2 separate regions of the Homo sapiens genome follow, and region 2 is linked to region 1. Evidence: fine-mapped expression QTL. A gene starts in region 1. The other region holds a variant in brackets. All regions are shown on one strand. Distances are from middle to middle.

Region 1 (2,500 bases):
ATATACCTGAAAGAAATGCAGAGTTATTAAACGTATTTCGCAAATAAGCCTAGGACGAATCTGCCTCTATTTTTTTTTAAAGAGAACTTTGAAAACAAGAAATAATCTGTTCAACCCAGTCAGCAAAAGAACACAAAATGAAATTTCTGCCATTCCTTCTGCATAAAGAATAACAGTCCATGTGAGAGGCTACCTAAGGCATATAACAGACTACCTTCAGTCGACATTTTTTTCCAGAAATTGAGTCGGTAGAAGTCACTGGGAACAATCACTCAACGAATATTCACTGAGTGCTTACCTGTGCCAAGTAGTACTGTAAACACAGAAGATCCAATGACTAAAACCAAGGCCTATTCTCGTGGAGTTGATGTTCTAATACTTGACCAAAGGCGTCGTGAGAATCTTTGGTAACTGACCGAGGGTTCTTCACGCCAGCTCTAACGAGAGACAGATCTGACGGAAGCCTTGTCGTGCCTTTATTTCCGTAGGCTGGTCATATGGCGCTAGCACTCACATAAAGCTACCGAGGAGAGCGAATGAAACCAAAATCACTTTACCTTCACAGCACGAGGCCGTCGTCCCTCTCGATATTTGGCCCGTGTGTCGCATACCGCCCTCTGGACGTGGTGATCAAATAAACTCCCTAGCTCCCCGCCGCTCGACGCCATCTTGCCTACTTTGATCCTCGCAGGGAGGACAACATCCGCCCTACTGAGCTCCCTTTTATCCAATAAGAGAGCGGGATGAGTTAAGGAGTGCCAGGATTGGCTGGAGAATCGACAGCGTCGGCCATCGTTTCCTGCGTGCGAAGATTTGATGAACGAGGTGCCGCCCCCGAGCGGCTCGGCGGAGAGGCGCGGTGGGTGACAGAAGCTTTCTTGTCCCACCCACTACAGGCTTACGGCAGGATGCGCAGCGGGGAGAGGGGGCGGGGCCGCAGGGGGCGGGGCCGATCGATCTCCTCCGGCTCCGACGTCCTCGGCCTGCCGGGTCCCGGGTCCTTTGCGGCGCTAGGGTGGGCGAACCCAGAGCGACGCTCCGGGACGATGTGGGGCAGCGATCGCCTGGCGGGTGCTGGGGGAGGCGGGGCGGCAGTGACTGTGGCCTTCACCAACGCTCGCGACTGCTTCCTCCACCTGCCGCGGCGTCTCGTGGCCCAGCTGCATCTGCTGCAGGTAACCTGCCGGCCCCGAGCCACCTGATCTTCAGCCTGGGGTCGGACGAGGCCGAAGCCTCTCAGGGACGCGGCGGGACACCGGCTGCCACCCGGGCGCCGCCGAAGCGCGCAGAGATCAGGGTCCCTCGACGGCAGGGCCCTTCTGGGTAGTCTCTGGATCCCACAAGTCCAGTGCAGCCCTGGGCTCGTCTTATCCCAGGTCTTTTCACTTGGTGAAACTGAACCTAGAAACGTCCTAATATTCTACCACTGTTTTTATAAATATTCCTTATTCCAGGCTGGAAAAGCTCCTGAGAAGTGGTTTGTTTTTATTATTTTAAAAGGTGTTTTCCTTGCCAGCCATTTCCAGTTAACCTGCGCTGCTGCCGTCCGGGCCGCGAGAGCGGGACGCAGAGTTGTTGGCGGAGCCCCTGTCGGTTCCCGGGGACTAAGCACCGCGTCCCATGAGCGGGAAAGGTTAATACAATGATGGTTCTGCCCTGCGTCGCTGACGCGGAACACAGCTGTAGTGTGTTAGGAACACATAACGTAGTTAAGATCACTTGAAGCTCTGCGATCAGTCGCCCTTCTGGACGTTGTGGTTAGGATGTTTCACAGTTCTAACCACTGGTGGAGATACAGCGTCCATATTTTCATAATTAAAAATAGAGGCACATGGTCTCACGAGTTTGAGTGTACTTATGGGGGCAAAAGGACGGCGTATTTGAAATCCTCATAAATCCTGGATGCATGGTACCCACCAGTGGCTAATCTATGCAATGAATAGAGTTTGCAATAATTTCAAGCATCCCTTCTTTCCACTTGAGTTACTTCCCCATACCTAGGGGAAGATATTTTTGGTCCACTGAAAACATGAGTTCAGCAGAATCCTCCTATCATCGTCGTTATTATTTTTTACCACTAAGTAGACAATCTTTTGGTTTTTGATGGGCTTTATGGCTAGAGACAAATCAGTCACTGTCACCAAGTTCCAGGTAGAAGTTGGTTCAGTGCTCTGTCAGCTTCGATGGGATTTTTCAACATGTTTTCAAATCTGCACTTAATAGTAGGAATGCTTTCTTACAGTAACTCTAATTTGATCCTAAGATGTAGTTGTTACCTTACATTCATCACTGTTTAAGAATTTAGTGGTCTTGATCTTTGTTTTAAATTTTGAGCCTTCGGGAAGTACTTATAAGAATTAATTCATGCATATCTTTTTGAAATGTAAATGTCTTTAGCCCTGGAACAAATTGCTGTTTCTGTTCAGCCCATATTAGCAGAATAGGTCAACTTTACTTTCTAATTATCAATGTAATAAGTTTATTACTTTATAGATTCCAT
Region 2 (3,027 bases), 21 kb after region 1:
TGGACTCTCACTTTGTCACTCAGGCTGGAGTGCAGTGTTGCAATCTCAGCTCATTGCAACCTCCGCCTCCTGGGTTCAAGCAATCCTTCCGCATCAGCCTCCTAAGTAGCTGGGATTACAAGCATGCACCACCACACCTGCCTAATTTTTTGTATTTTTAGTAGAGATGGGGTTTCACCATGTTGGCCAGGCTGGTCTCAAGTGATCCGCCTGCCTCAGCCTCCCAAAGTGCTGGGATTACAGGCGTGAACCACTGTGCCCAGCATAAAGTAAAATCTCTTCAGACTCTCATGTGATCATGTAAAGTGGCAGGCAGTCACAGTCAAGAAGTAGTTTAAAGTTCATGTTTGTAAAATATAATCTACAGATTGATACTGGATTTCATAGGTAATGTTTAAGAGAAAATAAGTTTTTAGTTATCCTCAGTACTTCAAAAGCACCCATTTATGATTATGTTGATTACTAAACTAAATCATTTGGGGGCTAGAGGTGTTTTTTTATGTGTTAAGATTCCTTAAGGAGTTCTATTAGGGCAAAACTTTTAGTAACTGCATATTTTAAAAGTAATAAAACTAATTTTAAAAGCTTGGAGGCTGGGCGCGGTGGCTCACACCTGTAATTCCAGCACTTTGGGAGGCCAAGGCGGGTGGATCACTTGAGGTCAGGAGTTTGAGACGAGCCTGAGCAACATGGTGAAACCTTGTCTCTACTAAAAATACAGAAATTAGCCAGGTGTGGTGGTGGGCACCTGTAATCCCAGCTACTCGGGAGGCTAAGGCAGGAGAATTGCTCGAACTTGGGAGGCAGAGGTTGCAGTGAGCCGAGATCATGCCACTGCACTCCAGCCTGGGTGACAGAGCAAGACTCCGTCTCAAAAAAAAAAAAAAAAAAAAGCTTGAAGTCAGATTCGACATTAATCAGTATACTTTCTCTCAAGTAGGGGACAATTTCTAAGATTTTAGTCTTTTAAAATTTATTAACTAGTCTGAGCATGGTGGCTTGTGTCTATAATCCCAGCACTTTGTGGGGCCGAGGCAGATGGATCACTTGAGCCCAGGAGTTGGAGACTAGCCTGGGCAACATGGCAAAACCCCGTCTCTACAACAAATGCACACACAAAAAACCCAATCAGCTGGGTGTGGTGTTACACTCCTGAAGTCCCAGCTACTCGGGAGGCTGAGGCAGGAGGATCACCTTTGCCAGGGCGTTTGAGGCTGCAGGGAGCTGGGTTCACACCACTGCGCTCCAGCCTGGATGACACAGCAAGCCCCTTTCTCAAAAAAAAAAAGATAAAAAATTAAATTAAATTAATTAACTACACTGGGAAGGCAAAATTCAGCATTTTTTTATAGCTAAATTTTATCCTGCTTCAGTCTTTTATCATGTAACTATGTATATTTTTTACAGAGGAGTGAATTCCTTAGGCGTATCCTCCTTGGAGCACATCACTCACAGCCTCCTGGGACGCCCTTTGTCTCGGCAGCTGATGTCTCTTGTTGCAGGACTTAGGAATGGAGCTCTTTTACTCACAGGAGGAAAGGTAAGTGGTTAAGGTGTGTTCATTTTTCTGTAACATTTAATAACTTTTCATTTATCTTTCTTTGGGTTTTGACCATCTATTATATAGGGTGGGTTTTGACCATCTATTATATAGGGTTTATACGACATATGGAAAGCATTCATTTATTCACTAATATTTCTGTGTGTCTGCTTTTAGGTGTTGG[GGGA/A]GTGATGACGAATAAGACTGATGTTCTCCATGCCCTTTTTCTGTGTCAGTTGATACAATTATATGGTTTTTCTTTTTTAGGCTATTAGGTGTTGATAGGGTTGAGTAACTTACAAATGTTGAACCAGCCTTGCATACCTGTGATAAATACCACGTAGTTGTGGTGTATCATTCTTTCTACATTGCTGAGTTTTATCTGCTAATGTTCTGTTGAGCTTTTGTCCATTTAAGTTTGAAAGTGATTAGTTTGCAGTTTTCTGTTTTTGTGTTGTCTTTGTCTGGTTTTGCTATCCGTGTAAATCTGGCCTCATAAAATGAGATGGGAAGTATTCTCTCCTCTTCTTTTGTTTTTTTGGAAGAGGTTGTATAAAATTGAGGCTGAATCTTGGTGGTTGCCACAATGACAGGAACTATTTCTGTGACTGAATATATTGGGAATTCCTATAAAGCAATTATTTTCTAGGGAAGTGGAAAATCAACTTTAGCCAAAGCAATCTGTAAAGAAGCATTTGACAAACTGGATGCCCATGTGGAGAGAGTTGACTGTAAAGCTTTACGAGGTATGAGTATGGTAACACTCTATATAAATCCCTTTTTCATTAGAAAGACAGGAATGTTATACATAATGCTGTCAATCTAATAAATACACATATCATCTAGTCTTTAACTTTTCTGTTTATCATTTAGTCATTAAAATTTCTTTGGCTTTCTAATGTTTTTGATAAAATTTCTAAAACTCTCCATATTTAATGGAGGCCTATTTTTTTTTCTAGCCAGAACTTTTTGTAGACTACATTTCTGGAAGTGCTCACTGACACCACTCTGAAAAATTAGTACTTAGAATATACTCTAATTGGTATAAATGATCTCTGAATTGCTATGGAAAACTGGGAGAATGGTTGCTTCAGGGGAGAGAAAGTAGGAGGCTGTGGACAGCAATGAGGAGAATTACAGTTCACCATATAACACTTTTGTACTTTTAAAGTCCTTAACATTTACATTATTATCTATTCAATTAAAAAATATTGGGAAGATTTTACTTTGAACAGTTAATTTTTCCCCCATGGGTACCGCTGTCATATAGTTCCAACTAATCATGAACTTGTGTATTTCCTGTTCTTTGTAAATTTAAACTTTGTAACTCACCAGGAAGTTTGAAGCCAAATTTGTGTTTCAAATATAGCAACTCCAGGATCTCTAGGCAGATGCATTTGCATTTGATTTTAAATGAATCTTGATCCCTTACTCTCACTTATGTTTTCCCACATCCTACTTTTTTTATTTTGTTGTAAGCCATCTAA

What was found.
Region 2: its variant is fine-mapped to the expression of PEX1 in whole blood (TOPMed, PIP 0.98).

Annotation. Positions count from the first base shown.
Region 1 is chr7:92,526,982-92,529,481 of GRCh38, reverse strand. PEX1 (peroxisomal biogenesis factor 1) reads left to right here and starts at 962. Exons shown (of 24, transcript NM_000466.3): 1 at 962-1,175. The coding sequence starts at 1,047. RBM48 (RNA binding motif protein 48) reads right to left here and starts at 687. Exons shown (of 5, transcript NM_032120.4): 1 at 558-687; 2 at 1-6. The coding sequence starts at 668. RefSeq lists enhancers at 384-763, 1,364-1,543 and a silencer at 904-1,133.
Region 2 is chr7:92,505,507-92,508,533 of GRCh38, reverse strand. PEX1 (peroxisomal biogenesis factor 1) reads left to right here. Exons shown (of 24, transcript NM_000466.3): 10 at 1,408-1,540; 11 at 2,190-2,286. Among named protein-coding and RNA genes, the nearest start is that of PEX1, 22 kb to the left of the region's middle. The variant GGGA/A (reference allele first, on the strand shown) is at 1,725.